Regions from separate parts of the Homo sapiens genome. Here all the other regions are linked to region 1. Evidence: fine-mapped expression QTL. A gene starts in region 1. Each other region holds a variant in brackets. All regions are shown on one strand. Distances are between the middles of the regions. Region 1 holds the start of GAS6-AS1 (GAS6 antisense RNA 1). Region 2 overlaps TMEM255B (transmembrane protein 255B). Region 3 overlaps GAS6 (growth arrest specific 6).

Region 1 (7,655 bases):
ATTGAGGGCTGCAGCCTGAATTCAGGACTTCAACCTAGTCTAAGAGGTATTGCAGGCAACTTTCGCTTCGGTACCGTGAGAAAATAGTGACGGGGGAGGCCCTGGCCTCAGAGGGCAGACGTCAGGCTCCTGCCGGCTCCCTTCGGAAACGTCCATCTGCCGCCAGCGGCCCCGCGTGTGTGTGACGGCTCTCGCCAGCCTCGCCCAGCAGCACGTGGACCTTCCGCAGGCAGATGCGCTTTCTCCACTCGGGCCGGGACAGATGGCCACCGGCTGCTCACACGGTCGGGGACCCGCAGCCCAGGCCTCCACGCTGGCTCCGGGATGTCCAGGTGCTGGTTGGGCTGAGGATGGTCGGGCCCAGGGCTCGGATCTGGCCATCAGCACAGAAGCCCAGTTCTGGGAGGCCCAGGCGTGGATGCTGACGGCTCGCTAAGCAGGCCAACTCGTCTGACCCCGACGATGCCAGAGCCAGCTGAGCAGAGCTCCAAGAAGCCCGTGGAACACAGCCCCCTGGGCCCCAGGAGAGCCCTGCACTGCCCACTGCACGGCCTCACACGGCCACAGGGGCCACAGCCGCACGCTGGGATCCCAGGCTCCAGCCCGGCACCGCGGCGTCCCTCAGATCCCGGCCTCCAGCCCGGCACCGCGGTGTCCGTCAGATCCCAGCCCGGCACCGCAGCGTCCCTCAGATCCCGGCCTCCAGCCCGGCACCGCGGCGTCCCTCAGATCCCGGCCTCCAGCCCGGCACTGCGGCGTCCGTCAGATCACATTGGTGGGTGCCCCCCAGTGCTCTCCCATAATGTTCCCCAGCCGGCTGGGAGCCTGCTCCTGCCCAACCTCCATCCTCCCCAAGTCAAGACGGCCAGGAGCAAAAACAGGCAACGGCCAGTCTCAGGGACAGAGACGTGGGGAGGCCCCCACAGACACAGGCTACAGTCACCAGTGTCCTCAGGACACAACCCTCCGCCTGGGTTTCTGCTCTGCCTCCAGACGAATCAGGAACTTCTGTTTCCTAGTATTGTTTTCTTAGAGTTCCGGGGGTGCCAGAAGTTATAATAACCACTGTCCCAAACAAGCAAAACCAATGGTGCTAGGAATTGCAACACAGAGGCCCAGCCAGGCCTGTCACGTTGGCGACCTGGCACCCTCCACAACCAGGCATGTCTGGGGTGTGCAAGAGGATGGGAAGACAGAGCACGTGGTGCAAGTGCTGGTGCCCTGGGGAGGCAGGAGGGATGTGCCCCTTAGAGGGAGGAGGGATGTGCGCCCTGGAGGGAGGAGGGATGTGCCCCCTGGAGGGAGGGGTGATGTGCCCCGTGGAGGGAGGGGGGATGTGCCCCCTGGAGGGAGGGGGGATGTGTTCCCTGGAGGGAGGGGGGATGTGTCCCGTGGAGGGAGGGGGGATGTGTCCCGTGGAGGGAGGGGGGATGTGTCCCCTGGAGGGAGGGGGGATGTGTCCCGTGGGGGGAGGGGGGATGTGTCCCGTGGGGGGAGGAGGGATGTGTCCCGTGGAGGGAGGGGGGATGTATCCCGTGGAGGGAGGGGGGATGTGTCCCCTGGAGGGAGGGGGGACAGCCCTGACTCTGGGCTGGAGAGGAGGAAGGAGGTTGGGCATGTGTTTTGCAGGTGGGGTCCTTTGATGTGGCCGCGTCCTGTGCACAGCAGATGCAGCATCGCCCCCTCCTGGACACCCAGCCTCATGACAACACGAAATGTCTCCAGAGGTTGGCCACTGTCCCCTGGGCCCGGGCACCTCTGGGGAAACACTGCTCTAAGCAAGAAGGAACGTTTCGTCCTACTTCACGTAATACGGCAAATATGAACATCAGATTTTTAAATGCCAACGGAAGCATAAAGCAAATGTACAGCCGGGCTAATCCCAGCACAGCCCATTTGTAGGAGAAGCTCCAGCCACAGCCCCTGCCTGCAAAGCAAGAAGGGTCACCTGCCCCAGGGTCAAGGACTCCACGAGGGGAGAGGGGGAGGGTCCGCTCCATGGTGCCCTTGTTTCAAGCACGTTTTCTGCTTACTGAATTCCATCAGTTAAAAGGTCTAGGAAACAGAAAAGGAAGTGGCGCGTGTCGCCGTCTGAGGATCTGCTGACGGGCCCCGGCCTCGTGGAATCCTCTTCTGCCTCTGTGGGTCTCCAGAGTTTCGGAGGCATCTCTGCTCCCACCGCGGGGTCTGGTGGCCACGGGGTCCCCAAGTCTGCAGGAGGAGCTGCTCTGTGTGGCGAGGGTGATGACCATGGCTCTTGTTCACTGAGCAGGGCCGGTGGCCAGCACTGTCCAAGTCACCAGTGCAGCCCCATAAGGCCATCTTCACAACATCCTTGGGGCCCGTTTCTCCCACTCCCGTTTCCATGGAGATGTGATTCACACAGCAATAGCCACGCCTCATGAGTGCAGAGCATGGGTCGGTGGTCAGTCCATCCACGGGGCCGTCCACCCATCACTGCCATCTGGCTCCCGGACACTCCTCTTCCCACAAGAACTCGTGTCCCTGACCAGTGACTGCACCTCTCCCCATCCAGAACACGCTTAGAACACACTTGCCTCCCCGAAAAGAACTCGTATCCCTGACCAGTGACTGCACCTCTCCCCATCCAGAACACGCTGCAAACACGCTTGCCTCCCCGAAAAGAACTCGTGTCCCTGACCAGTAACTGCACCTCTCCCCATCCAGAACACGCTGCAAACACGCTTGCCTCCCCGAAAAGAACCCGTGTCCCTGAGCAGTGACTGCATCTCTCCCCATACAGAACACGCTGCGAACACGCTTGCCTCCCCGAAAAGAACCCGTGTCCCTGAGCAGTGACTGCACCTCCTTTCCCAGTCGGCTTCTGTCTGTGGACACGCCTTCTCTGGACACTGCATATAAACAGAACACAGTCTTCATGTCTGGTGTCCTTCCCTGAGCACTGTGTGTTACAGCCTCAGCACCCGTTAGAGCTTCCTTCCTCTCCGTGGCCGGGTGACCCGCGTGTGGATGGGCCACGTCCTCTCCCTCTCTGTGGCTGGGTGAGACCCGCGTGTGGATGGACCACTGTAGTATTCTGTTTTCACACTGCTAATAAGGACATACCCGAGACTGGGAAAAAAAGAGGTTTAACGGGACTTACAATTGCACATGGTTGGGGAGGCCTCAGAATCACGGTGGGAGGCAAAAGGCACTTCTTACACGGCAGGAGCAAGAGAAAATGAGGAAGAAGCAAAAGCGGAAATCCTGATCAACCAGTCAGATCTCGTGAGACTTACTCACTATCACGAGAATAGCACGGGAAAGACCAGCCACCATGATTCAATTACCTCCCGCTGGGTCCCTCCCACAACGCGCAGGAATTCTGGGAAATACAATTCAAGTTGAGATTTGGGTGGGGACACAGCAAAACCATATCACCCATGTCCCTTCCTCTCTCCGTGGCCGGTGACCCCATGTGGACGGACCGTCACCCATGTCCCTTCCTCTCTCCGTGGCCGGTGACCCCACGTGGACGGACCGTCACCCATGTCCCTTCCTCTCTCCGTGGCCGGTGACCCCACGTGGACGGACCGTCACCCATGTCCCTTCCTCTCTTTGTGGCCGTTGGCCCCATGTGGACGGACTGTGTCCCTCCCCCACTCAGTAGTTGCCTCTGCTTGGGAGCTCTTGTGAGCAGTGCTGCTGTGTGAAATGTAGAAACTGAGGCAGGAGGAGACTCCCTGTAACCCAAGGTCCCAAGCTAATAAGGTGGGGCCAGTCTCAACGGACCCCTGCCCAGGGCAATGCTCTGACCCTGCCCTCCTCAGTCACAACCTGCAGCTACACTAGGCCCCCACCTCTGAGCTGCAGGAGAAGCCTGTCTCCTGTGCTGTCCCAGTGAGGCAGGGAGTGCAGGTGGGGCCACAGCACCCCAAACCCCCCAGCACCCCCTGCCCCGGGGCCACAGCACCCCCAAACCCCCCAGCACCCCCTGCCCCACCATCCCCTCCACCCCATCTCCCGCGGCCTCCAGGGTCTCACTGACCTCGGCTGTGCATGGGAACCAAGTGAGGGCGGGATTGGGAGCCCATCCCTGCAGAGGAGGCTGGGATCAGAAGGCCCCAGCGGAGCCCAGAGAGGGGGTTCATCAGACCGTGACTCAGGCTGGCAGAGCTTGGTGGCCCCAGACAGGATCCGTCCACATGAGACAGGTGCACCTCGAGAGCAGCCGCCGCCCACACTGCAGGCCAGGCATTGGCCGGAGCCCTGCGCCAGGTGGGAGCTGCCCTGGGACCTGGGGGACCCTCCAGCCACCACGAACCTTGAGTCAAATTGTTCACATTCTTTGTGGCTGGGATAAAGGATAAGGACATTTTTGTGGCAAGAACAAAACTGTTGACCTTGGAGTTGAATATTTTTGAACAGCTTTTGACTCTAGACAAGATTAAAAGTCGGGAAAGATCGATGTTGTGTTTGGGGGAAGCTGGTGAGTGCAGCCTCGGGGAAGCACTCTGATGCCCCCACACCGCACCCTGCGACCGAGGGCTGACATGAGGGGAAGGAGGGTTATTCCTGTGACTTTGCTGGCCAGAGCTCCAGGGGGCATAGACTCCCTGCCCAGACCTGCAGTTCAGCTTCTCTGCTGTTCGCACCCCTAGGACACCAAGAGGTGCTGGTGCCTGCACCAGGCAGCTTCGGGGGCACAGCCCGAGCTCCAGGGTGCCCAGGAACCGCCCACACAAGACCACGGCACCATCGGCGCCCATAGAGCCTTCCCTGAGGTAAAGTGAGAGCCCTGGGGACTCGGGAAATCCGTGGCACACTTTTCTTCCCCCACAGGCGCTCGTGAGTGCATCTCCCGGCGCTCCAGAAACCTCTTGGTCTCTGCTGCTTGTTCAGCTTCTTACTCGGAGCCAGGCACCCACAGCCCTGGAGGAACTGGGCGGTGATTTCCAGACAGGACGCCGCACCTCCGGCTCGTGCCCGACCTCCCGGACTGGTTCAAGGCCAGTCAGCCCTGAGAGGCCAAGACCACATTCTCCTGGACAGCAAGCTTGTGAGGCTGGATTTTATAAGATAAAAATGACAAGCAGTGGCGGGTTCACAGACCAGAGCTGGCTGCAGGCCTTTCAGAGGCCCGTTAGGGCCCCTGGGCCCAGCCAGCCACCGTTCATGTGTGGATGTGCGCTGTGGGCCTTCTGCCCAGGAGCGCTGGACACAGGATGAGACCCTCCGTCGGGCAGAGGGAGGCTCCCGGGCAGCGGAGGGGGCAGAGGCTGTGTGAGACCCTCCATCGGACAGAGGGAGGCTCCCGGGCAGCAGAGGGGGCAGGAGGCTGTGTCTGCACGAGTGTGGCTCCCCTCCACCTTATCTTTTTTCTCCCAGATCCAGGACTGGGCAGGGGAGAAAGTCCCCGCTCCACCTCCCAGGTGGGCACTGTTCCGTGAAGTAAGCTGGAGACCTCAGACCCACACGGGAGAAGAGCGGTACTTGTTTATCGTAGGCACGGGGGGCTTTGCAGGGAGGGACGTGAGGCCCTGAGAGCGGTGAGGCCTGGAGGCGCCAGCTTCCGAGGGGAGAGGGAGTGACTGGGGAACCGTGAGCGGCCCACAGAGCAGAGACGGCGACTTGGTGTCTTGTGGCACGTCTGGGGAGCAATGGGATCACCTCTCGCCCGCCCTCCCGCCCTGGGAGTCCCTGGTTCCCTGAGGATCTGACTTCAGGAGTTCAGAGAAAGCCTCTCCCCACATCCAACACTTTTCAAGAGACTTCGGCTACTTTGGGGTGGCGCATCCTGAACTCCTGTCACTGGGGCGCCTGTGACCCACCCGGGACCCGTGACCCACTCGGGACCCGTGACCCACCCGGGACCCGTGACCCACCCGGGGCCCGTGACCCACCCGGGACCCGTGACCCACCCGGGACCCGTGACTCACCCGGGGCCTGTGACTCACCCGGGGCCTGTGACCCACTCGGGACCTGTGACCCACCCGGGATGCCTGTGACCCACCCGGGACCTGTGACCCACTCAGGACCTGTGACCCACCTGAGACCTGTCCTGTGACCCACCCGGGGCCTGTGACCCACCCGGGACCTGCTGCTTCCCAGGCGTGCTCACCCGTCTCCCCAGGTGTGCCCGGCAGGTGCATGCTGGGCCCGCGGGGAGCTAAGCTGGTTTCCACAGGGAGTGCTGCGGCCCCAGACCCTGAGCCAAAGGACCCCGAAACACCGTCCCCCACCATCCCAGCGGCCAGGGGTCCTGAGACAAGGTGCGGTGAGGGAGAAGCCGCGGAAGGACAGCGGAAGCCCAGGCGCCGTAGCTGGGAGACAGCTCAGGGGAAGACCCTCGTGCCAGTGGCCCAGGCAGATTTGCATCCGGGGCTGGGAAAGACAACCGGGCCCCTGGATTCTAACAACTCACAGGCGGTTAGACACAGCGCTGGGCGTTGGAGCCGAAGCGTCCTTCCCTTCCTGGCATACGTCAGGAGCACAGCACGAGGGGCGGGTGGCTTCTGCCCTGCGCTTCTCCAGGACACAGATGCACACACGAACGTGTAACGCACAACACATGTCCACAAACAAGAACACACAGGCAGGGAGGCCGGGGCTGCACTGTCTTTGCAAAATCATAATAATAGCTAATTAATTAAGGGATGTGAAAACACCAGAACAATTGCTCTCAGAGGAGGAGGCCGGGTGGGAACTTTCAGCGCCATTTGATGTGAGCAGAGCCCAAGCCAAGGTGTCACCAGCCTGGGTCTGGAGGGCCCCACTCCCTGCCTGGTTCCAGCCTCCCTCACCAGTGTGCCCAGGGAGGAAAGGAGGGGACAGACTTCTGGAACATTCTCCCGGGTTCTCTAGGAGGTTGGCCACAGAAGCGGGATTTCTAGAGGCTGCCTTTTTTTTAAAAAAAAAAACAAACAAGTTATCTTTTACTCCACGCCTCTATCAGGGTGCGTAGGGGGGTGGCTTCTCCCCCGGGGGAAAGTAGGTGGGTGCGTAGCACGGTGGAGCCTGGCCGGGAAGCCCAGAGCCAGAGCTGCTTGGAGAAGGGGGCTGCAGGTCCTCAGACGAAGCCAGGGCAGAGGAGGGCGCAACTGGGAAGCGGCTGCAGGGCTGCAATAAACAGAGAGGGCCCTGGGTTAGCAGGTGAGACCACCCCGTGCCGGACCACAGGGAAGCCTGACATATACCAGGGCCACTCACACGCTCCCCACCCACCCCGCCAACCCAGGGCCACCCGCAGACTCAGGGCCATTCACATGGGCCCCCCGCAGACCCAGGGCTATTCACACAGGCCCCCTCAGACCTAGGGCCACTCACACAGGGCCCCCCGCAGACCCAGGGCTATTCACACGGGCCCCCCACAGACCCAGGGCTATTCACACGGGCTCCCACAGACCCAGGGCCACTCTCACGCCCCTCCCCTCCCCCGGAGACCCAGGGCCACTCTTACGTCCCCCTCCCCCACCGCAGACCCAGGACCTCTCTCACCGGCCCCCACCCCACAGACCCAGGACCACTCTCACCGGCCCCCCCACAGGCCCAGGCCCACTCTCACGGGCCCCCACAGACCCAGGACCACTGTCACGGGCCCCCACCCCACAGACCCAGGACCTCTCTCACCGGCCCCCCCCACAGATCCAGGACCTCTCTCACTGGCCCCCACCCCACAGACCCAGGACCACTCT
Region 2 (7,655 bases), 50 kb after region 1:
TGCAGGCCACAGCCCGGGAACCTCAGAGCTGGTCCTGTAGACACCAGTGTGCTGGGGAGGCAGGGCTGACTCTTCTCAGAGCCCCAGTGCAGCTGTACCATCCCCTGATGAGGGACTCATGCTCCCCACCACCCCATGTACTTTCTTACCATTTGCCTTCTATTCTCCACCAAGTTGATGCCAATAATTCCTAAGAAAGATCCAAAGCCGAGCTAAAACCAAAGGAAGAACGAGAGAGAAACACTCATTAACGTGCCTAGAAGCTTAACACTGACATTTAAAGCAAATAATCCCGCCCTCAAAGGCATTTTATCCAGGGACGAAGGCCAGACATCCCTACCTCAAGAACCTCAACCACTGAGCAGCAGGTGCGTCTGCTGGCGTTGGGCAGGCATCTCTGCAACATCACCTGTCCTGTCTTCTCTGCTCAGAGGTTTTTAATGATGCATCTGTTTGGCTTGTGACTCTGGGGTAAGAGAAGTTCCCACTCCTCCCCCAGAGACAACATCTTTTCGGGAACCCAGGGCCACCAAGCACCACCATCTGTCCCGTCTTCTCCAGGCCTGAGATGCCCCTGAGCATGGCTCCTGGGTAAGGTATTAGGGAACTACAGCCGTGTTTCAAAAGAAGGGTTGCCAGGCACAAGGGCCACCAGTGACCCCTGCTCAGACGGCCTAACTCTGGTTGCTGCTTCGGGAGAGTGAGCAGGGCAGACCGTTAGCAGGGAGGTGCCAGGTGTGGGGAAAGGGCACCTGAGCCAGGCACAGAGGGGGCACCTGGGCCAGGCACAGAGGGGGCCCCGGGCTGCAGCACAGGCCACCAGGGGTCCGGCAGAGCCCCCTTACTCCACAGGAAGCCCCAGCTCTGGGCAGAAAATGATACTGGGATGTCGGGAAATAGACATGGGACTGTGCTGTCTTAGAACAGAGGCCACCGGCCGGGCATCCGCACCCTCCACCCAGGGCCCGTCCTGGCAGGTGACGCCCACCTGGCAGAGGAATTTTTAAAATCAGTGTGAAGAACATGCATTTCAGCAACACCCACCGAAAATCTGGCTCAGAGCAGCCAACATGGACCTGCCAACGACCGTGCCGAGGCCTAAGACGGCTCTTGCTCCCACGCAGGTGCGCCGGGCCGGTCGCACTTCCCAGTGAGTGTCTGTTGGAAGGGGTGGCCCGCCCGGCACAGCCTTGGAGTTGCTGGGGCCGTGGTGTCAAGTTTAATGCACTGGAAACCGGACTTCTTTATGTAAATAGTTTTGCCTTTTCTGTAATTGTCTGTGTGTCTGTGGTGATAGACACGTACACATGTGGCTTTCACCAACGGTTTGAGAATTCTCCAGGGATAACAGGAATATTTCTTCATGTGCTGAGCTTCAAAATACTGCAGTTCAACTCCACACGTCAAAAATATCAAAATTTCACTTCGATATACATGTATTAAAATACATCTGTTACACTACGTTTTATTTTTTGGGGATTTGAAAAAAACCACACCTTTCTTGAAAATGTGGAGATGTTTTCACGTTCTGGCCGCTTCTTCTGAGATCAGCTTCTTAAGTCTCTACATTGGCAGAAAGTCTCCACAGAAGTGACTCTTAGCCACGTTTCCTTGAAGCTGCTTTTATTTGTTGTCTCCCTAGTTTGCTTTCAGAACTGTCTGTACTACAGGCCATTTCAATCTGGTCAGCACAGCATTAATTCATTGCCCAGAAGGTAGATTCTTTACAGAGCATAGCTTGGGCATTAGCCATTGATGTTTTTCATTATGTTATTCTGAGGCAGCTCTTAAATAAGCTTGAGGACAAACCAAAAAAAACAACCACTCAAGGCTGATCTTGATGTTTCGCAAATCACTTGGAGGTCCCTCCTCACAGCCACTTGCCCTCTGGGCTCCCCTTTCTGCCCAGGAAGCAGAAAAGCCCCTCACATGAGGCCAAGGTCCCCACACCATTGGCCTCTTGCAATTTTACTGATAAAGCTTTTTCTGCATAGATACTATTTGTATATGTTTATTCATAAACTATACACAGGTAGATAGTGTAGATGTCTAAGGCACACCCTAAGATATAAACAAAGGAAAATATAATGGTGAAATAAACAGTATTTGTAAAATATTTCTAAATACTTAGGGCCAAAAATCTTTCATCTTTGCTGATTGTCATCAATATTATTACCAATCTTGGTAGTACTTTAGGTGAGAGTAATGAGATTGAAGAAGCCGCATTTTAAAATCTTGCTTTAGCACTTTATGACGTAGCAACCAGGCTCTGGGGCATGTGAAGGGCATCGCAGCTGATCCAAGCCATTCCAACAGAGGTTCACTGTGCAGAATGCAGGCACTTAGGAGAATTCTTTTACTAACGACAGAGGATGTAATTTCATAGTTCAAAAAACCTTGATACTTTTGAATCTGGGTGACCAATTCTTGCCAATTAGGTTACCATCAATTTACCTCGCCGCCTTACTGTTCAAAATCTGGCCTGACGGGTGGATGAGGTCAGCACCACCACCTTCTGGCCGTTCCCACGCGATCACGTCACTAATACGATCTTTGACCCACGGCTTCTTGGTAGGAATCGTTTAAAGTTACTTTCCCCTTCCATGGGCTATGGTGGTCGACCTGGTCCCTCAGGGTAAAATCCTTCCAGGATGCTTGGGGAGGCTCTGTCCGGCCTTTTTGGACATCCTGGGCTCCTGGCCCCTCCTCCACCTTGGACATTTCCTGTTGCCGGGCTCTGGCCCCCCTCCTGCCCTCTGGTCACCCTGTGACCACATCGGGCCAACCCAGACAATGGAGGGCACCTGGCCCTATTTTGAGATCAACTTGGACCTCAACCCCAATTCCCCTCTGCCTTGGACCTGCCACTGTCCCAGGTCCTGGGGATTGGGAAGTGCATGTCTGTGGGGGCCATAACCCTGCCGACCACAAGCACTGATCGAAGCCTCCCCACCTTCAGCCCCAGCCCTGTGAGCTGGCGTGGACTCCACCCTGAGAGAGCCACACACCACCCTGCCCTCCCCGGCCCAGGCCGCCCGCCCGGCGCACTCACAATGATCCCTGGGTAGTAGCCCCCAACGGTCACATTCTCCGTCCTGGTGGTGGCAGCCAGCCCGACGGTGACTATGAGGACGGACACCAGCAGCAGAGACCCCACAAACCAGAGCGACGTCTTCTTCCTCCTCGAAAGCCCTTCTGTGGGGAGGAAGGCGAGGACCTGTCAGTGAGGGCTCAGGCTCAGGAGGGCGTCAGGCCAGCAGGCTCTGGGCCGTGCTCCGTTACCCAGGGGTCCTGGGATGCACTATCCCCGCCTGCCTCCAGGCCCACCTCAGGGGACCACCCCCAACCTCCATTAGATAACAGAATAAAATCTCTGGACCATAAGCCACTATACTGGATAGCCTGGTATTTGCGGCCAAACCTAATTCTAACTGTCACAGAACTCAAGAAAGCAAACTAGAAAGGACTCCTTCCTATTGGCTGCCTCTTCCTCTATCTGACTTTCTCCCCCTGGTGTCCCCAGGAGGACAGGAGCATCTTTTGTTTACTGTTTTATCATTACCATTCGCTCACAGACACACCCTCTCTATCCGCCTATCCCAGCCACACCCAGTGGGGGAGGGGGCTGCCACCAGGGGAGGGGCAGGGAGAGAGGAACGCACACAGCA[G/A]CCATCCAGCTGTGCCATCTGTTTTGCTTTATTTTTTGAAAACTGAATCATCTTGATCCCTGTGTGACTCCAAACAAAATAGGGGATTTAAAAAACCATGGTAAGGTCTTCCTACTCCAAGAGTTTGAAAATCAACATTTGTGTGTGTGCACATGTGTAAGTGCGTGTGTGCAGGGAAAGCAGACCGCACACTGGAGAGCCGCTGGCAGCGATGACGGCCGTGCAGACATTGTCCACACCCTAGAAGGTCCGCATCTGAAGATTTACACTTCTGCAATCCCATCAGCAGAGCTCAATGGCAAGGCAAGGTTATCGCACCCAAGGAAGGGATTGTTACATCCTCAGAAATGAGTTTCACAAAACTATAAATCAATGTGCAGATGCAGAATTGCTCTGCTGATCTGAGAGAGTCATTTTTATCCAGCTGACCCAGCAAGGGCGTGGCCTTGGTCACGGCCTTCCTTCAAGGCCCTCTTGGACTCAGCACAGCCCCCGGCACAGCACCCTGCCTGCCTCTTGACCCTTGCAAAGATACACTTGTCCCAAGAATCTCATCCTAAATCGCTTTTTACCTTCCACCTTGGAGGGGACCAGATCACTCCATTCGCCAATGTAATAAACCATCGGCTCCCACCAGCCAGCCAGGCTGCCCCCGTCTTGGACCCACTGCACCGAGGCGGCCAGTGGCACTGTCCTTAGTGTTATACTCCAGGCCGCAGGCAGTGGTTTCAGCCTCTCCCTGGTTGCCCCATCTCCTGCCTCCTTAGAGGCAGGCTTGTTGCAGCATCCACAGGGCCTTTGTACCTGCTGTCTCCAGCTAGACACTCGCAGCACTCCCTGAAGGCCTCTCTTACATGTTGCTGCATAGACACACTGAGTATAGTAGCCACACTCACCCCTGTGCTCTCCACAGTTGCCCCTTCACCCCTGCCCCTGCAGAGCATCCTCGCATGTGAGAGGCAGAGGGGACACCAGACAGACAGAGGCACACGCTGCAGGCATTGGAAAAGGCCAAGTTCAGTGGAGAAAACTTAAGCAGGGCTGGGGACAGGGCGCTCCGGATGTGTCACCCACAGGCAGCGGGCAGAGGGCAGAGCCTTCCCTGAGGGGCCTGGTGATGGCACAGTGCACCCCTCAGCCCAGCACCACTGGTGTGGAGTGAGGCCCTCCTTCTGAAAGCCACCCTCCTGAGACACCAGAGGCCGCAGCCCGGTGCGGGCCAGGGAGCAATCCCCACACCCAGCCTCAGGAACACGCCCTGGGGTTCGGGGTCCCTGCAGCCAGGGCCACACCTGCGCCCTCCGGGTCCCCAAGGCAGCTTCTGCAGGGGTCACACTGAATAAACCTAGAGGGGTGACAAGCAGGTGGGTGCAGGGGCGGGCACAGCACCAGGAGCCCCAAGGCCACACTGGCGGCCCAGGACCTGGCACCTACACATCCATCACCCAGTGTCTGTTAAAGTCATGCTCCCCCAGCCCCAACCCGTGTCCCCGTGTCCCACGCCCACGCCCCGGCCCATCCCACCCCAGGCCACACCTGCCTTCCTGTGTGCATGGAGCACGTCCTTTCTTGTCTTTGGATGGGGAGGACACTCCCCTCAAGTGACCGAGGCCCAGGCACCCGACACCTGCCCTGCATGAGGGGATGGGCGCTGCACCTGCCAGCCGGAACACACGGCCCAAGGCCTCCTCCAGCTCCGCCTCTCAGTCCCTCGCTTCTCAGCCTCAGGCTTCCTTCCTCCTCCCCACCTCTAACTCGCACAGTTCTTCCCTGTGTCTCTCATGGTATTTCTGAACTAAAAGCCAACCCTCGTTGGACTGGAAAAGGTTGGGAAGATGATAACGACATTCTTACAAGGAAAAGGGAGACAGTGGGTATATGTTGGAAAGTGTGATTTTTACGCTGCTCAGAAGAGCAGAGTGATTTTTTGTAGAACACTCATAAAGTACTGAAAAATGCAAAAGGGAAAATAAAATTCATGGTAACCTAAATTAACAAGTAGGCATAAAATCTTATGGTCTTTTTTCAATGCACTATGTACTTTTTAAAACATTTTTTTCTTAAATTAGGACCACAATGCTTTATAGTAATTTTTTCACTGAAATCTTGCAATTTGTTAAAAACCTGAAAGGTTATATGTTCACGGTCGTTTGCCCGAGAGACAGGAGCGATGGCGACAGATCCCGGGTCTCTGTCGGGAAGTCGAGGTGAGAAACGGCAAACCCACGCTGGGAGCAAGTGGGCAAGAGGAAGGCAGGCACCTCCCGTGGGTGAAACTCCGTTCTGGTTGATTCGTTTTAGAAAGGTAGGTAAACTTTTTAAAAATGGACACAAAATTTAAAAATATATGCAATTCCACATTTTGGAAGTTAATGAAACAGCTATTGTGGAATTACACAAAATAATCATATTGATGATAATAACACCATCTATGGATTGGGCTGTGTGTCGATTTTCAGAGCAGCCTAACTTCCTTATCTCATTTGATCATGACCAGAGGCTCCAGGTCACCCTCACCAGCCTCCATGTAACACCTGCCAATGCAGCCAAATGCTAGGTGCCTTCAACTCACACAATTCCCGCTTCAGCCTTTCCTGCTTTTCCTTAGGCTCCCATTCCAATCTTTTGACTGTTTAAATGTATTTTAAGAGCAATACAATTTCTAAAACTAAATTTTATGGGACTAAGTATTTGAGAAAATTATCAGACAAACGCTGTCCTTCTCAAAGGATTTTGTTGTGCGATTTTTCTTAATTAAATGCACTGCATGCATATAATATTATGCTCAAAATAGTTAACCAGATGACTCAGCGTCTGCTTCGACCCACAGGTAGAACCTTCCGTGGGGCTCCTGTCCCAGCCTCCTGTGGGCGTCCGTCTGTCAGGAACCCTGTGACTGGATTCTGGTTCTTAAAGCTGGAAGCTCTGCTCGGTTCCTTGGCATGAAGAGTGGGGGCCCAGCAAGACCCACTGGGCTAACTGACCTTGTCAAGTCAATCGGTAACATGCTGACTTGTTAATTACTATGCGAAGAGTTAGACACATCTCCTCTGAAACCACGTAAATCCTCCTACAAACCATTTTCAACCTAACTTTGCTATGTTTACCCCTCTTTCCTGAGTCTAACTTCCCCCCCATCTGCTACAAAATAAAAAGCAGAAGGTATGAGCCACCCTTTTATCAGCATTCCTATCACAGATTCCTAGATTATACAAGTCTAGAAAGACAGTAGAACTTACATGGGGCACTGGGAGCAATGGTTGCAAATCATCTCATTCAATTACACAATGGTGATATTTTGACTCCAGATATAATAGAGATAACAAAAAGAAGACTCCCAACCTTAAACACATTCTATAAATACATGACACAGCATAAAAATGAGAAAAAAAATAAACTCAAGAAAAGAAGGTGGGATATCTTTATAATTAGCATAAGAGATAATTATAAGGTCAGATTTTCAAGAGAAAGGGGCTTTCACTTAGGAGAAAGATAATTAAAATCACCTGAATAATTTCCTTGATTTTTTTTTTTTTCCTGTCCCGGAAATACTGTTATTACACGCACTGTGAAAATTAAAGTGCTCCTAAGTGCCCCAACTATTAATTAAAATATCTACCAATAGGTTTCTATTGCAGAGGCAGCTTACAGGGACTGGACCCAAACCATTCTGGGTCTGTCCAGACCCATTGTGTGGTCTTGGGCGGCCATTTAATCTCCCTGAGCCTGGGAGAAGAGAACCCTATGAGAGCCAAGAGCTCTGTCTCTTGTTTGTCGCCGGTTCCCGGGGCTCAGATGAGGACATAGACACATCTCCTGGTACGGAATGAATGAAGGCACTTCAGTCTCCTGACCTGTAGGATGGAAATCATGAGAACCACCTGCTCACCCACCTCTTGAGATTGTGATAAGCGTCCAGTGAGACACGATACGTGGGCTCTCATATAGGTTTTTGTAAATGGAATGCATATGCTAATCATCAGGGTG
Region 3 (7,655 bases), 41 kb before region 1:
GGCCAGGCTGAGACCTCCCCTGCCCTGCCTTGACAGAGGCTGCAGCACACTCCCACACACAGACACATGCACACACATTCACACATGGACACCAGCACAGATAGGTGCTGACTCATGGATACAGGTGTGCAGGGACACACACACCCCTACCTAGACACATGCACACATGTACATATGTTCCCATAGACACAGATATACATGCACACACACAGGCACACACATACTAACAGACATGTACATACGTATGCACACATTCACATAGATATACGTACACACACACACTGACAGACATGCACACACATAAACAGGCACACACACATACTAACAGACATGTACACATACATGCACACATTCACATAGACATACGTACACACAGTCACACACTGTCCAGACATGCACATACAAGGCACACACATACTAACAGACATGTATACATACATGCACACATTCACATAGACATACAGTCACACAGACATGTACACATGCATAATGACATGCACACACATACTAACAGACATGTACACATACATGCACACATTCACATAGATGTACCTACACAGTCACACAGACATGCATACATAGGCACACACAGACATGTACACATACGTACACAGTCACACACACAGACATGCACACACAAAGGCACATACTAGCAGACATGTACACATACATGCACACATTCACATAGACATATGTAAGCACACAGCCACACACTGACAGACATGCACACACATACATGCACACATTCACATAGACATACGTACACACAGTCACACACTGTCCAGACATGCACATACAAGGCACACATACTAACAGACATGTATACATACATGCACACATTCATATAGACATACAGTCACACAGACATGTACACACATGCATGACACGCACACACATACTAACAGACATGTACACATACATGCACACATTCACATAGACTTACATAGTCATGTACACACATGCATAATGACACACATACTAACAGACATGTACACATACATGCACACATTCACATAGACATACATACAGTCACAGACATGTACACACATGCATAATGACACGCACACACATACTAACAGACATGTACACATACATGCACACATTCACATAGATGTACATACACAGTCACACACACAGACATGCATACATAGGCACACACAGACATGTACACATACAGTCACAAACACACAGACATGCATACATAGGCACACACAGACATGTACACATACGTACACAGTCACACACAGACATGCACACACAAAGGCACATACTAGCAGACGTACACAGACATGCACACATTCACATAGATGTACATAGTCACACACAGACATGCATACATAGGCACACAGACATGCACACACAAAGGCACATACTAGCAGACATGTACACATGCACACATTCACATAGACATATGTAAACACACAGTCACACACACTGACAGACATGCACACACATGCACACATTCACATAGACATACGTACACAGTCATACACTGACAGACATGTACACACATGCATAATATGCACACATGTACACACAGTCACATAAATAGACACATATACACACACAGGCACACATGGATGCCCAGCCACATGCATGCAGACACACACAGACACATGTGCACCCTCTCACACACTTTTCTCTTTCTACAACTTTGGGGTCAGAAGACCACTGACAGCTGCAGCAGGATCACTAAAAAGTGACACAAGGTCACGGGGCTCTGTGGCCCCAGCTTCCTCAGACCCCCAGGGTCTCTCCACTCCCAGAGCCCCCTGCCTGAGGGGCCGGAGCCCTGTGGCCAAGGCCTTTCCTCCTGGGCCCATCCTGAGGCCTGCAGGTGGACCCCGGCCCGGCCTCCTCTGAGGGCCGTCTTCCGTGCTGGCTCCGCAGCCCTCTCCTGTGCCCGCACCTGTGCAGATGCTTGTTTTCACCCGGGCGTCTGCAGGCACTTGGTGCCAGGCTCCTCCGGGGCTTTCTCAGAGGCAGCCGAGTGCCAGGCCCTGCACACGACACCCTCACCCGAGCCGGAGAGCTTCACATCTGTGGAAAACTCTAATTAAAGACGTTTTGAGAAACGCTGAACGTCTCCCTTTGTTATTTAGGAACAAAACACTCTTTTAGGAAGCAAGTGCTTATGGCTTCTTTCTTGAGATTCTGAGTAAAGGGGCGTTAAGCTTGCTAGCTGGGGCATGCTGAGCACTTCCCAGGTTATGGCTTTACCCCAGAGCGATTGACAGGCATCCAGGTTTCCTCATGCTTCATTTTCCCCTGTTTTCTAAGGTTAAAACTGAGAGCTGTTTCTCCAATGCAAAGCTGCTTGTTTAAGGGTTTCGTATTTGATGTTGGAAATGCTCTGGACTCTTCCATGGTTTTTATATTCCAGTGATTTCACTGCAAACCTGGTGTGTACGCCTTGTAAATTTTGACCCTGGCCAAGTGAAAGGTTCATTTTAAAAGTTTTAAAATAAATTTTAAAGGGGAGCTGGAAGTGGAATAAGTTAAGAACAGTATCAGTTTTGCCTTTCACTCTGACAGAGGCACTCTCTGCTCTGACTGACGGGTGTTGATTAAAAGTATAATATTCAAAAGAAATAGTAAAGTGCATTGGGCCTTGTTAATGTTCTACTAATTTTCTGGGGCTCCGTTTTCAAATTATAGGTGAAATTTTTTTCCTTCCAGTGTTAGTGCCTATGATAAGAAAATACATTTTCTCCACATCTGTCCACAAACCTGCTAGACCCTGTTTTGTGACTACCTCCCCTTGGAACTTGGGGCTCCATGGAAAACACACAGCTTGACCCAGCCAGCCCTCAGAGAGCCTGGGCCGGTCACTGCAGTGGCTGGATTCTCAGCATAAAAAGGCCAAACGTTCGGCCAGGCTGGGACTGGCTCCCATCCAGGACCAACTGTCCACAGTACAGTAAGGCCACTCTCTGAGTCAACATTGTTTCTTTTCTGAATTGCTAAGTTGACCGTCCCTGCAGAAGCAGAGAGGGCTGCGGTGTGGCATTCCTGCCCACTCCAAATGAGGGCAGCCCGGACGCGGGAGCTCTCAGGGAGGCGCAGTGGGCTTTGGGTGTGTCTGGACTGTCTCCACCACACCTGGAAGATACTGTTCACTTCCTTTTTACACTTGTGGGAAATACATGACAGTGTTTACGGGCAGGCTGGCTTTCCGTTTATTTCAACCCTGACAATTGAATAGCAGCAGCAGATGATGAAACTGTTCACTTCCCGATCACTCCCGTTCTCAGATCCATCACTTAGCTCGTCCGTCGCTCAGCTCGTCTGTTAGTCTGAAAGATGAATCGTGCACGGGTCCTCCTGAGAGTGCTGTTCTCGGGGTCTCCATGTGTGAAGTTGTTACATCCTCATGACAACTGTGTAACAGCTGTCACTGAGCCATTTTACAGATGTGGAAACTGAGGCCCTGAGAGGCTGTGGAGGGCTACAGTGTGTCCTGGGCATTTGAGCCCCACACTCTGTCATTAACTCCTGTGCTCGCTGGGACTGGGGGAGAGCAGGACGCGGCAGCACCCCCGGCCCCACTGTGTGCTCCTCTGTGTGCAGGCGACTGTGAGCATACTGGCACCCATGTGAGGGCTGAGTGGTGCTGGTGTGGGCGCATAAAGCACAGGGCGGCTGCGGGGAGCTGGGTGTGTGTCAGTGGCTCGGAGCATTAGTCTCGTGAACATGGTCTGCCAGGTGCGTCATGCTGGGCTACAGAGCCCATGGCTCCACCATAAATGGTGGTTTTGTGTTTGAACTTGAGTGTTGCTGCTCAGTGAGGCCAGAGGAAGGCACCAACCTGCAGGCCTGGCCGGTCCTCACAACACGGAAGGCAACCAGTCCACTAGAGAGACATGTGTCCCGGCCACTGGAGGAGTCCAAGTGACCTTTAAGTCTCACCAGTCCTCAGAGCAACCCAGGTGAATTTGGGGCCTGAGCTTGGTCGTCTGGCCGAAGACCAGCTCAACTTGGATAAAGCTGGAGGAGAAGCCTGTCCCTCAGGCAGCTGCCAGGGCATCTGTGATTTCTGCTTGCGTGCACTCTTGGCGACTATTGGTGGTGGTCGCAGTCAGGGCATCTGGTTGCCTTTACTGTCCTTACACCAGCTGGGCAGAGCTCAGGCTGGGAGCCCAGTGGGAGAGGCCGGGGCGTGACTCCC[G/A]GCGCAGAAGCGGCAGTGGCACACCGGCGTCCCAAGCACAGCTGTCCCTGCCAGGCCCCTGCGCGTTGGATCTTTGGGTTGAGTCATGCTCGATGGTGCAGCCATCCTTTCAAGGGAACTGAGCTGTCCAGCGTCCCATGGAGCAGCTCCCCGTGGATCCGGAGAGGCCGTAAATAAACCTCCCCATTTGTAAGCCGGGAACACACATGAACTTTGCAATCGTGTTTGTCCTGGGATCATAGAACGTGGTGGCTGGCAAGACCCAGGCATCCTCATCCTGTGCTGCTGTGAACAGAGGCCGGTAGCTTATTGAGGGACCAGTCCCAGTTCGCTTTCTGTGGGGAAGACTCTGATGGAAGCCTAGGCCCCAAACTCCAAGGTTAGCACATCTTCTTGGGGGGATTGACACCTCCAAAGGTGAACTTGGGTCCAAGGCACGTGTGTGCGACCTGAAGCATGGGTGCCGTGTGCAGGAGACGCCCTCACCGGAGATGGGGACCGAGTCCACACGGCTCTAACTGCAGAATCACTGGCCCTGTGCCCACGACTATTTTATTTTGCTGTTTTATATGATCACAAAGTACACTGTCTTGTTTTTCCCAAAGCATTTGCAGTGAGACATCCCACTTCCTCTCCACGGCAGCTGTTGCGGGCACGAGGCTGCTCCCAGGACAGCGATGCCACCGGGGCTGGGGTGGGCACGGAGGAACCCTCTTCCTTCCTCCTCCCCGCCCTCTGCTCCCCCACAGACTGGCCTGTCTTTAGTCAGCACTTTCCCAGGCTCCCTTCTGCCCACCACGTGCAAACAGTGGCGTGTCCTGGGCCTCTCTCCTTGTAGTGTTTCTTGTGGCCAGCATCCCTCCCATCCAACAGCTGTGTGGCTTCCTGACTGGCTTCTCTCAGGGCCCGCAAGGATGCTGCCAAATGGCCAGAGACAGTCACTGCTCTGCACTTCAAAGCAGGCAGCCCTCGGTGGGGCTTGCCCTGAAAGACAGCGGGCCTTCCTCGATGAGAGCCTGTGCTGGCTCAGGGCCTGTGGGGGCTGCAGCTCTGTTCCTTCCCTGCGTCCACGCTCACATGCTGAATGTTGTGCACCACAGGACACCCTGCTGGGGGCTGTCGGGAGCATGCTCTGTGTTTGGGGCAGAGACGGGCAGAGTGAGTCTCAGCATTACTGCCGTGCAGGGTTGAGTCTCAGCATGACTTCCATGCAGGGGGAGTCTCGGCGTCACTGCCATGCGGGGCGAGTCTCGGCGTTACCGCCGTGCAGCTGCTGGAAGCCACTCGAGCTCCTCTGTCTCGTTTGCCATGAAGCCCATGAGAGACACTGATGTGTGTCTCGGGGCTTCTGTGAGAAGAGCTTGGTTACCCACCGGGTCAGGCACCACGTCGGTGCTGTGAGGCATGGAGGGTGCTCACAGCTGTGCAGTCAGCTACAGAGGCCTTTCCCAGCATCCACATCTGACCGGGCAGTCACACCAGGATGAGCTCCCAGGAAGAGGGCTCCCAGCAAGGGAGGGCGCACCTGGGTGTGAGCTTGGAGGAGGGCAGAGGCACCTGTCACCGCTGACCCTGGGTGCAGATGGGCATGCCGGGTATACTGACTGTGCTTTCCTGGGGCCTGTCTCCCTCCAGGTCAGCCTGGGGTCCTCTGGGCTGGGGGCCATGCACTGCCTCCTGTGGGCAGTGGGATCAGCACTTCCACTTTGCTCAGGGCTAGAGCAGGCTGCTGCGGGTGTGAAGACTTAGGAAACGAATTCGGAAGGAAGGAAAGGATTTTGCACTTCCCAAGCTAGAAGAACATGAATAGAGCCGGGCTGCCAGGCCAAGGGTCTGTAAGACGGCGGCTCTTCAGAGAGTCTGCAAATGCTGAGAAAGGAAGGCTCCCCAAGGGCAGTTCCTGTGGGCGTTACTCTGAGTTTTCTCATAGAAGTCAAGTTCTTGGAAGACAGCACTATGGTCAAAGGGTTAGTGAATTCTTGTGACCATTTCCCATGGAAAATATCAGAGAAAGTTATGGTGTTGATAAACAGAGTCCCTGTGCTCAGCAGTCTCCACCCACTTGTCAAGTAAGATAAAGATTTTTGGAAACAAAATTTATGGCTGTTATTTGCTAAAGAGAGTAATACATTCTTAGCACACTCTGAAAAATAACCACTATTTGCTGTATGAATGCAGATGAAACTCACACAAAAAGATTTATGCAGGACTGACATCGGGTGTTTGCAGAAGGTTCTCCACGTTCACTGACCTCTGATCCTCACTGCAGCTCTGCGGGGACTGTGGCCCAAGGATGAGTGAGCGTCAGGTCGGGCCGTGCCCTTAATCCCCTGGCTGCCCCTCACCACCAGGCAGAGACCTTGCTGGGACCCAAGGAGTTAAAGTGTATTCAGAGATGAAGGTGTTTAGGAAATGTTCTGGAACCTTCCAAACTGACTTTAGGCTGCGTGAGGTGCTTCCAGTTCAGTGCACTTTGGGCCCAAAAGTGTTTCCTGTCTTGTTAATGCACTGTGTTGTGTGCCATCACCGCATGGAGGTTTTGGCCATTTTTAAAAAGTGAATGGGCCCTCCCAGGGTCTAGTTGGATCGAGAGACCACTGGAAACCCTCACCAAGCTGCAGGCAGGTAGGCAGGGGCCCCAGAGCAGGCCTAGGGGAAGAGTCCCCCCGGCCCCTTGGAGGGTCTCTTCACGTGCTGGGTGCTGCCTGATTCCTGCGGTGGCATGGGGAGGTCACCCCACCTTGTTCTGAACCACAGCTCTGGGTGAGGAAGCCTGTCACCAGGTTAAAGGTCATTTGGGGGTTGGGGCGTGAGAACCGCAGTGCCCTGCTGGTAGGGTTGCCGCATGGGTGGCCAGGCTACAGCCTGGTCCCCGAGGCCGACCCATCCTGGGAACCCTGTGTGCAGCTCCCTGCCATGCTTGACCTTTGCCCTGTGGGTGGCTTTGAGCGGGGGAGACCTGGGTCTGGTGGTGGGCAGGGCAGGGGCGGAGGTGGACTTGGGTCTTTGTGACACTGCACCAATTCCCATGGATTCTGCCGGCACCCACTGCCCTCCTGAGCAGAGCAAAGGCAGCAGAGGCGGATGCCAGGGTCCGGAGGTGGCATCTACTCATCAGACACTTTCTGTAGTTTTATAACAAATTTGGGGCCTCATGTTAGACCCCAGCCAGACCAGGCTCCTGTCCTGGGGCTCAGCTCCCTCCAAGCTGCTTCAGGTTCAGTTTCCTCCATGCTTACGAAACCGAAGGGCAACGGGCACAGTCAGGGAGGCGTCAGAGGAGGCACCGGCTCCACTGTTCACACCGGGACCTTCTGCAGACGGGGCTCCCAGCCTCGACCAGCCCCGGAACCCCCAGCACGGGGACGTCCAATCTTTTGGCTTCCGTGGGCCACATTGGAAGAAGAACTGTCTTGGGCCACACATAAAATTAACACTAACAGTAGCTGATGAGCTAAAAAGAAGGTCTGTGCCTAAAGCTCATGTT

The links. PIP is the estimated chance that this variant, and not a neighbour inherited with it, causes the effect.
Region 2: its variant is the best candidate, but not a certain one, in a credible set for the expression of GAS6-AS1 in whole blood (INTERVAL, PIP 0.72).
Region 3: its variant is the best candidate, but not a certain one, in a credible set for the expression of GAS6-AS1 in left ventricle (GTEx, PIP 0.83).

The regions. Positions count from the first base shown.
Region 1 is chr13:113,811,161-113,818,815 of GRCh38, reverse strand. It overlaps GAS6-AS1 (GAS6 antisense RNA 1), which reads right to left and starts at 3,206. Exons shown (of 5, transcript NR_044995.2): 1 at 3,125-3,206. It overlaps TMEM255B (transmembrane protein 255B), which reads right to left. Exons shown (of 9, transcript NM_182614.4): 9 at 1,821-7,080. The coding sequence ends at 6,913. It also overlaps LOC124903220. RefSeq lists enhancers at 2,783-2,902, 2,963-3,202, 3,253-3,322.
Region 2 is chr13:113,761,655-113,769,309 of GRCh38, reverse strand. It overlaps TMEM255B (transmembrane protein 255B), which reads right to left. Exons shown (of 9, transcript NM_182614.4): 2 at 3,053-3,195; 3 at 150-212. Among named protein-coding and RNA genes, the nearest start is that of TMEM255B, 6.3 kb to the right of the region's middle. The variant G/A (reference allele first, on the strand shown) is at 3,669.
Region 3 is chr13:113,852,169-113,859,823 of GRCh38, reverse strand. The region is part of intron 2 of GAS6 (growth arrest specific 6); the gene reads left to right. Among named protein-coding and RNA genes, the nearest start is that of GAS6, 8.1 kb to the left of the region's middle. RefSeq lists enhancers at 4,575-5,288, 5,289-6,003, 6,379-6,878, 6,879-7,380. The variant G/A (reference allele first, on the strand shown) is at 4,169.